Linked DNA regions of Homo sapiens: region 2 is linked to region 1. Evidence: fine-mapped expression QTL. Tissue or cell type: lung. Region 1 holds a variant in brackets; the other region holds the start of a gene. All regions are shown on one strand. Distances are from middle to middle. Region 1 overlaps FGD1 (FYVE, RhoGEF and PH domain containing 1). Region 2 holds the start of FGD1 (FYVE, RhoGEF and PH domain containing 1).

The links. PIP is the estimated chance that this variant, and not a neighbour inherited with it, causes the effect.
Region 2: FGD1 starts here. The variant in region 1 is the best candidate, but not a certain one, in a credible set for the expression of FGD1 in lung (TOPMed, PIP 0.82).

The regions. Positions count from the first base shown.
Region 1 is chrX:54,473,837-54,478,211 of GRCh38, reverse strand. All of the region lies in intron 1 of FGD1 (FYVE, RhoGEF and PH domain containing 1), which reads left to right. Among named protein-coding and RNA genes, the nearest start is that of FGD1, 20 kb to the left of the region's middle. The variant G/A (reference allele first, on the strand shown) is at 2,318.
Region 2 is chrX:54,493,516-54,497,890 of GRCh38, reverse strand. FGD1 (FYVE, RhoGEF and PH domain containing 1) reads left to right here and starts at 1,657. Exons shown (of 18, transcript NM_004463.3): 1 at 1,657-2,765. The coding sequence starts at 2,459. RefSeq lists a silencer at 1,545-1,594.

The sequences.
Region 1 (4,375 bases):
GCTTTCCCTGACTAGCGTTGCCAGAATTAGCCTTCAGAAAGTATTTAATACAATTAGATTTGAATTTCAGATATACAATAAGTCATTTTGTTTTTAGACGGGGTATCACTCTGTCGCCCAGGCTGGGGTGCAGTGGCATGATTTCGGCCCACTGCAGCCTCCGCCTCCCGGGTTCAAGCCATTCTCCTGCCTCAGCCTCCCGAGTAGCTGAGATTACAGGCGCCTGCCACCATGCCCAGCTAATTTTTGTATTTTTAGTAGAGACGGTGTTTCGCCATGTTGGTCAGGCTGGTCTCGAACTCCTGACCTCATGATCTACCCACCTCGGCCTCCTAAAGTGCTGGGATTACAGGCATGAGCCACTGCGCCTGGCCCAACAAGTCATTTTTTAAGTATAGCTTAAGAAATTGTTAGTATAAGTATTCATGAGACATATTATACTAAAACATTCCTTGTTTATCTAAAATTCAAATTTAACTGAGTGGCCGGGCATGGTGGCTTACGCCTGTAATCACAGCACCTTGGGAGGCTGAGGCAGGTGGATCACCTGAGGTCGGGAGATCGAGACCAGCCTGGCTAACATGGTGAAACCCCATCTCTACAAAAATACAAAAATTAGCTGGGCTTGGTGGCAGGCACCTGTAATCTCAGCTATTCGGGAAGCTGAGGCAGGAGAATTGCTTGAACCCAGGAGTCGGAGGTTGCAGTGAGCTGAGATCGCACCATTGTACTCCAGCCTAGGTAACAAGAGCGAAAGTCCATCTCAAAAAAAAAAAAATTAACTGAGTGTCCTGTATTTTATCTGGCCACCCTATCCATTCTCCTCCACTGAGCTTCCCCAGTCCCCACAGGCTCGCCCTCGTTGCCTTTCCTGAGTTAGAGTCTTTGTCTTTGAGATTGGGAGCTCCCTGAGGGTAAGGGTCAAGATTGCCCTTCTGGCCTGCTGAATGCCTGGGGGGGCAGGGGTTTGAGAGTGGGGCAGGAAGGGTGCATACCCCACCCCCATCCCCACAGCAGAGCTGGCACAGTGCACTGGCACTCCTGGGGTGCCTAGAGTATGCTTTCCTAGGTGACAAGAGATGTCCGAGTGGCAGTGGTGGTTGTGTGTGTGCAGTTGTGCCGAGCACGGTGCACACAGACATGAGTAGCTCTGTGGTTCTCTCTCTGGGTCTTTGAGGGATGTGCACAGTTGGTGTGTGGCTGGGTACATTTCCACAAAGTGTTATCAGATTTGGTGGTGGCTGGGTGTGGTGGTACACACCTGTAGTCCCAGCTACTTGGGAGGCTGAGACAGGAGGATTGCTTGAGCCCAGGAATTCGACACCAGCCTGGGCAAAATAGTAAGGCCTCACCTCAAAAATAAAAAATAAGAAAGATTTGGTGGTGTGACCAAATGTGTGTGACGGGGGCTTTTTGGTGATCTCTGCTCTACTGGGCATTGGGGAATTATAAATCCGTTGATGGAAGGGGCAGTGCTGGTGGAGGATCTTGTCAGGTGTGGAGGTGTGGGTGTGGGTGTGATAATGTTGTGGATTATCAACCACAAGAAAAATGGGCTGGAATTGGGCACACTGGCTCATGCCTGTAATCTCAGCACTTTTGGAGGCAGAGGCAGGAGGATCTCTTGAAGCCAGGAGTTTGACACCAGCCTGGGCAACAAAGAAGGACCCCATCTCTACAAAAAAAATTAAAAATAGCCAGCCATGGTAGTGAGTACCTGTAGTCCCAGCTACTTGGGAGGCTGAGATGGGAGGATCACTTGAGCCCAGGAATTTGAGGTTACAGTGACCTGATCACACTACTGTACTTAACCCTAAGCAACAGAGCAATACCCTGTCTTAAAAAAAAAAAAAAGGGCTGGAGAAAATGAATCCAGGACCTTGCTGGGTAGGGACGGGATGGGGCAGTGGGAATGGCTGTGGTTTCTAGGAAGGAGGAGGGGGGCCTACCCTGGGAGCTCCCCAAGGGCAGGGATGGGATTTTCTCATCTCCAAGCACAGGGTCTACTAGGTTCAAAAATATTCTGGAGACCAAACTCAGCCAAGGAAAGCCATAGAGTTCAGCATGGTCATGAGGGGCCACTGAGAGCTAGCTGAGAAGTTTCTTTTTTTGGTGTTTTTGTTTGTTTGTTTGTTTGTTTGTTTTTGAGACAGAGTTTCGCTCTTGTTGCCCAGGCTGGAGTGCAATGGTGCGATCTCAGCTTACCACAACCTCCGTCTCCTGGGTTCAAGCGATTCTCCTGCCTCAGCCTCCCGGTAGCTGGTATTACAGGCATGCGCCACCACGCCCAGCTAATTTTGTATTTTTAGTAGAGATC[G/A]GGTTTCTCCATGTTGGTCAGGCTGGTCTCGAACTCCCAACCTCAGGTGATCCACCCACCTCAGCCTCCCAAAGTATTGGAATAAAGGCGTGAGCCACCGCGCCCGGCCTAGCTGAGAAGTTTCTATTTTCCCATGGACAGTAGGGAGTTACAGAAGGTTCTTGTGCAGGTAAGTGGCATGATCTGAGCTGGACTGTACGTAAGTTCATTCAGCCACCTGGAGGGAGCAAGACTTGGAGCCAAGGAGGCCACTGAGGGAAAATAGGAGACAGGGAAATGTAGGCAGAGAGACAAGGGAGAGGGAGTTCTGAAACGAGAGGGAGGGATCTTGAACCTTCTCCCGCTCAGTGAAACCTAGCCTGGTTCTTGGCCAGGCCTAGGCTCCTAAACTGGACCCCTGTTCAACTCCCTGTGGACAGGGTTGAGGGGTGTCCCTCTGACTAGCTACACTGCAGTTTGTGACTTTCGGAAGCCGTTGGGTCCACCCGCCCCTCCTGGTTCCCCTCTTTTCCAGCTTGCCCTTGGAGAGCAGGGTTAATAAGAAAGGAATCCAGTCCATGACCAGTCTGCCCAAAAGTGTGCCATTCATTGATTTGCTCTGTGACCTTGGGCAAGTCACTGCCTCTCTCTCTGACTCCATCTCCTCACTAGAAACTGGGCTGACAATCTCTTTTCCTCTCACCTGGGACTCCAGGGAATCTTTGCATTTCATTCAGCCTCCTCTTCCTGCAGGGCTGCCTGCAAGGAGGCAGAGAGAATGGAGAGGCAGGTCTGTCTGTGGGCTGTCAGGTGAGATGGGTGAGGAGGGAGCAATGGGTGGGCTAGGGCAGGGCCATGGAAAGTGGGATGTATGGTCACTCCATCCCGAGGACCAGCACTGGAGGAGAAGGAGAGCAGCATTATCCAGGGACCCTGCTGCTTTGCTACAGATAGGGTAGGGAGGGCTTGCCCAGAGAGGCCTGCCTGCTTTGAGGTGTGGAGATAGGTGGGCTCCTCCAGGCCCAAGGAGGCAGACAAGGGGCACCAGGGACCCTGGCACCTATGTGTGTATATCTGAGGAGGGGTCTCTGCATGGCAGGGTGCCTGGCTTTACTCACTGCCTCTCTGGCCCTGTCAGCTCCTCTCTGTCTCTCTCCCTTGCTCTGGCCATGTGTCTCTCCAACCACATCTCCGCCTGTGCCACCCTCCAGGTGATTCATCTTCCTCACCCCCACGCCCAGGGGGAGGGCAGGGCAAGACCAGGCCAGGATGTGCTGAGCAGGGCAGGGTAAGCGGCACAGCTGAGTGGAGAGGAGCGCCTCCTCCATCCTGGCCAGGCCCTGCCAGCTTAGGTGGGGAAGGAAGTGAGGAACGACACCCAAAGCAAGGTACAGAGTTGGGGAGGGGCGCTCGGCCTGGGGCCTGGGGCACCCTGTTCCCTCAGTGCTGGGAAAGGACCCTGATCTGAGTCCCCTGGGGTGGACCTGGCTGGGATGTAGCCAGGGGTGAGGTCAGGGGCCTAGGGAAGCTGCTGGAACCCTGTGGGTTGGGCTATTTCTTCCCTCCGGGACTGGGAGACCTAAAATCCCCTGTGACTCTTTCTGCCTGTGTGACCCTGGAAGGGAGGCTGCAGAGGTCTTTGTGTGTGTATGTTTTCACAGCAGAGTTTGTATGTGACTATTTAGGAGGAGGCAAGTGTCCCACAGTGTGTGTATTCCTGGGCCTATGGCTAAGACCCAGGGACACCGTGGATGTGTTTGTTAGATGAGTATGACATAGTAAATGACAGTTGTCCCTTGGTCTCCATGGGGAATTGGTTCCAGGACAGCCTGAAGATACCAAAGTCGCCAACACTCAAGTCCCTTATATAAAATGGCATGTTGTTTGCATATAAACTATGTGTATCTTCCTGTATATATATATATATTTTTTTTTTGAGATGGAGTCTCTGTCGCCCAGGCTGGAGTGCAGTGGCATGATCTTGGCTCACCGCAACCTCCACCTCCCTGGTTCTAGCGATTCTCCTGCCTCAGCCTCCCGAGTAGCTGGGATTACAGGCATCCACCACCACACCCAGCT
Region 2 (4,375 bases), 20 kb before region 1:
ATGCCTGTAATGCCAGCTACTTGGGAGGCTGAGGCAGAAGAATAGCTTGAACCCGGTAGGCGGAAGTTGCAGTGAGCCTAGATCGCGCCACTGCACTCCAGCCTAGGCGACAGAGCAAGACTCTGTCTCAGAAAGAAAGAAAGAAAAAAAAATCACATGTAGAGAGAGGACAAGAGCGCTCAGGCCAAAGCCCTGAAGAGCACCAGCATAAAGCGTTGGACAAAGAGGAGCCTGGAAAGTAAAAAAAGAATTACTAAGGAAGTAGAAGAAAAACAAGGAAAGTGCAGTGTCATGGAAGTGGTTTAAGGAGGAGGGAGTGGTCAACAGTGCCAAATGCTATCAAGAAACCAAGTAGGATAACCTCTGAAAAGATTCTATGGGGGCTGGGCGCGGTGGCTGACGCCTGTAATCCCAGCACTTTGGGAGACAGAGGCCGGCGAATTACAAGGTTAGAAGTTCGAGACAAGCCTGGCCAGTATGGTGAAACCCCGTCTCTACTAAAAATACAAAAAAATAGCTGGGCGTAGCTACTCGGGAGGCTGAGGCAGAAGAATCGCTTGAACCCAGGAGGCGGAGATTGTAGTGAGCCGAGATCGTGCCGCTGCATTCCAGCCTGGGCGACAGAGTGAGACTCTTGTCTCAAAAAAAAAAAAAAAGAAAAGATTCTATGGGATTTAGTGAGATGTTTCATGGCAGACCCTGATGAGAGAGAGCAGTTTCAAGCAAGTAGTGGAGGCAGATTGGAGTGGGTTGAAAGATAAGTGGGAGGTGGGAAAATGAAGACAGTTGGGTGTAGGCAACTCTTTTGAGAAGTTTGTAGAAGAGAAGAGAAGGAGGTGGTTGGAGAGGCAGAATTCTTGGTAATTGTTTATTTGTTTTTAGATGGAAGAGGTCTATGTTTAGATGCTGTTGGGAAGGAGCAAGGACAAATTCCTAGGCTTCGTAGCAAAAAGTCAAGAGCTTCCTCTACGGTGGCTCTGTTTACTCTCTGCAGCAGGTCAGGTTATTTGCTGAGGGTTACAGGGCAGATGGAGCACTTGGGGTTTGAGGGGAAAGGAGAAGGTTTGAAATGGTCACTGTGGAGAACAGAGGGAGAGCTGACTAGTAGGGTTGTGGGTCAAAACTGAGGGCCTGGTAGAAGCTGGGAACCATGGGTTTATAGTGGCACAAATCTGTGAAGTTGAATAGTTTTCCCCAGCAATGTTTAGCTGCCTGGGCGCAGGCATGGAAAAGGCGGACAGTTGGACCGATTCAAGACTGGGATGTTGCCAGGCGGATGCGACAAATCAGGGAACTGAGGGTATTTAAGAAAGTGACTAAGTAAGGGACCAAGATATCTGGTCTGAGCAAAGTGAAGGAGAATCAGAGACAGGTCCTCTATGAGCCAAGCCCTAGGAACACTCAGGAACATGAAGAAAGGGTTTTGGAAAAGAGAGTGAACGGCAAGCAGAGGGGGGAAGACCTGAGATGGGATGGAAGGGCAGATATGGGGGGAGGGGGTTGAGCCCGGAGACTTGCCTGTGGGGAAAGCAGGCTGAGGGGGAATTTTTTAAGGGGCAGGAGGGCCTTGAGAGCGGTAGCAGCGAGAAGTGAGGCGGCCCCGAGCGAGGGGGCGTGGTCAGGCGCAAATCCCGGGCGAGGGGGCGGGGCCCCGGTAACTGGGTCCCAGTGCCGCTGTGGCTGCGGCTGCCTCTGCGAGGCTCCCGCCTCCCCACCCCCCTTCCCAGGGCTCCTTCCCGCCCGCCGCCGCCGAGACCCAGGCTGAAGCTGGGGAGGACGGTGGAGCCCGGCCCAGGCCGTTCTCCTGCCCCCGCGGCTGGAGCATCGTCTGGGACTACTGGCTGAAGGCGAGCCCCGCAGCCCAAGCGCAGCGCACACGCGCGCCCCCGGCCACCGCCGTTCTCTCTTCCCTCCCCTCCTCTCCCCTCCCCTCTCCTCCGCCCCCGGCCTCGGCTGCGGCGGGAGGAAGAACGCTTCCCAACCAGCCAGGAGAGCCCAGATCTATTCCCATTCGGGGAGAAAGAAGAGACCCCGCACTTGGATCCGACCGACTTCTCGCCCCGGGGCCACGGAAGTGGCTCGCCGTCCACCGGAGAGTCCCCGCCGAGCGTAGCCCTCCAACCCTCGCCCAACCGCAGCCGCATAGACAGCGCTCCCCAGCGGGCCCCCGGCCCCGCCGAGCCCACTCCCCGCGCGGGGCCGGGGCCGGGGCCGGCGATGCCTGGCACGGCAGCGGCGGTGGCCGCGGCTGCTGCTGCTGCTACTGCCACCGCTGCCACGGCTGCTGGCCCGGGCCCGGGCTGGGGGCTTGAGTCTCTGCAGTGGGGCTGAGCCCGCAGTCCCGCCCCCCGATCCTGAGGCCGCTGCTCCGCCGGGCGCCGGGCCTCCTCCGCCCGCGCCTCCGCCCCAGGAGCTGGAGCCAAGCGGGGAGCTCGGGCCCCGCGCCCAGGCCCGGACCATGCATGGCCACCGAGCCCCGGGGGGCGCCGGGCCTTCGGAGCCCGAACACCCGGCCACGAACCCGCCGGGCGCCGCTCCGCCGGCCTGTGCCGACTCGGACCCTGGAGCCTCGGAACCCGGACTGCTGGCGCGCAGGGGCTCAGGTTCGGCTCTTGGCGGCCCACTGGATCCCCAGTTTGTCGGACCCTCGGACACCAGCCTGGGCGCTGCTCCAGGCCACCGGGTCTTGCCCTGCGGTCCCAGTCCACAGCACCACCGGGCCCTGCGCTTCTCTTACCACCTGGAGGGCTCGCAGCCTCGGCCTGGTGAGTGAGCGACTGAGAGAGCATGGGAGCCCGGGCCACGGGCCTGGTACTGGGAGCGGGTTCTTGTTCTCGAGCCCTCTAAGCCCCACCTCGGAACAGGCTCGCTTACCTCGGCCCTTTGGGTTCCCTCAAACCCCTCCTCCTCCCCACGTCCCTTGGCCTTATGTCCAGTCCTTTCAACCTCTGTCCCCATCTCCTCTCTCTGTCCCTTGTGCCCCTCAACCTCTCCAACCCCCTTCTCCTCTGTCTGCTGAGGCTAATGGGAGAGGGAGCACTCGCGAGAAAAAGAGGGAGGATTGCAAGGCAGCAATCCTTGGATATTTGGTTGGGGAAACCAGGGTTTCGTTTGGAGAACAGAAGAAAAAAAGGAGCCTTACATTTGCCAAGCGCCTACATTGTACCAGGCACTGGACTGGGTGCTTTACATGGATTTTCATTTCAGCTTCAGGAACCCTCATGAAGTAGATACCATTAGTCCCATTTTGTAGGGAAGGAAACTGAAGCTCAGAGAAGTTAAGCAACTTGCCCAAGGTCACACAGCTAGTATGGAGCCACGATTCAAACCAGATCTGTTTGTGTCCAAAGTCTGTGGTCTTTCTGCTTCCCCAAACTGAGGCTGGAGACCATGAAAGTAATGCCAAGCCTTCTGCTTATGTGATTTTCTCCTGTACTATTCAGCAGCCCTGGAGTATGAGCGGAAAAAAAAAAAAAAAAAAAAAAAAAGAAAGACGGTGGATTGATCCAAGGTTGAGATTTTGCCAGGTGTGTGTGGCGGGAGAACAAGGGAAGGAAGGAGTAGAAGGTGCTGAGAGAGAAAGGTGGAAGAGGTGGGCCTTGGGAGTCAGGCTAGAGGAGAAGGCTGGAGGGGCTGATAGGTAGGGAGACAGCAGAAAAGCCAACAGAGGCAGAAGCCAGTTGTAGCAGGAGCTGGAGAGCTGCAGGTCCACGAGGTTGGTTGTGATGTGAAATCAGGATGGTTTCTTGGATTTGAAAAGGTGGAGCAGCTTTAAGTCAGGCTGAGGCCACAGACCACTGCCTTTGTGCTACACAGACCTGAGTGTCTGAGGAGCACAGCAGGACCTTCCCCATCTGGGGACATTCTCATACGGGCCTGAGCCCAGGAGCCACAGAAGAAGAGCAGCGCACATCTGCCCTGCCTTCCACTGGGACTGAAGGAGTTGTTAAGCCCTTGGGGGCTCCCGGGTTCACACCTCAGGCTCCACAGATCTCTGGGACCGTGGCCTTGCACCAGGTAGCAGTAGTGAAGTATAAAGCATGGGTAGGATGTGCCTTTTGGTGCCTTCATGACCTTGGGCTAGTCATGGAACCTCTGGGAGATTTCAGGGGGCTCCCTCAGTGTGGGCTGAAGATAACCAGCTGGCAACAGGCCCTTAACACCTTGGCCTGCATGTTACTTCTGCTGGCTTTCCAAACTCCCCTTGACACTGTGTAAAGCCAGTGCCTTTTTGCAGCTGCCAAAACAGGCCACAAGCACTCCCACCCCAGGACTTTTGCATTGGCTTTTCCTTCTGGCTGGAAGCTCTTCCCCTAGCCCTCCACCTGGCTTGCTCCTCGTCTTGCATGTCTCAGGTCAAATGTCACCTCTTCCA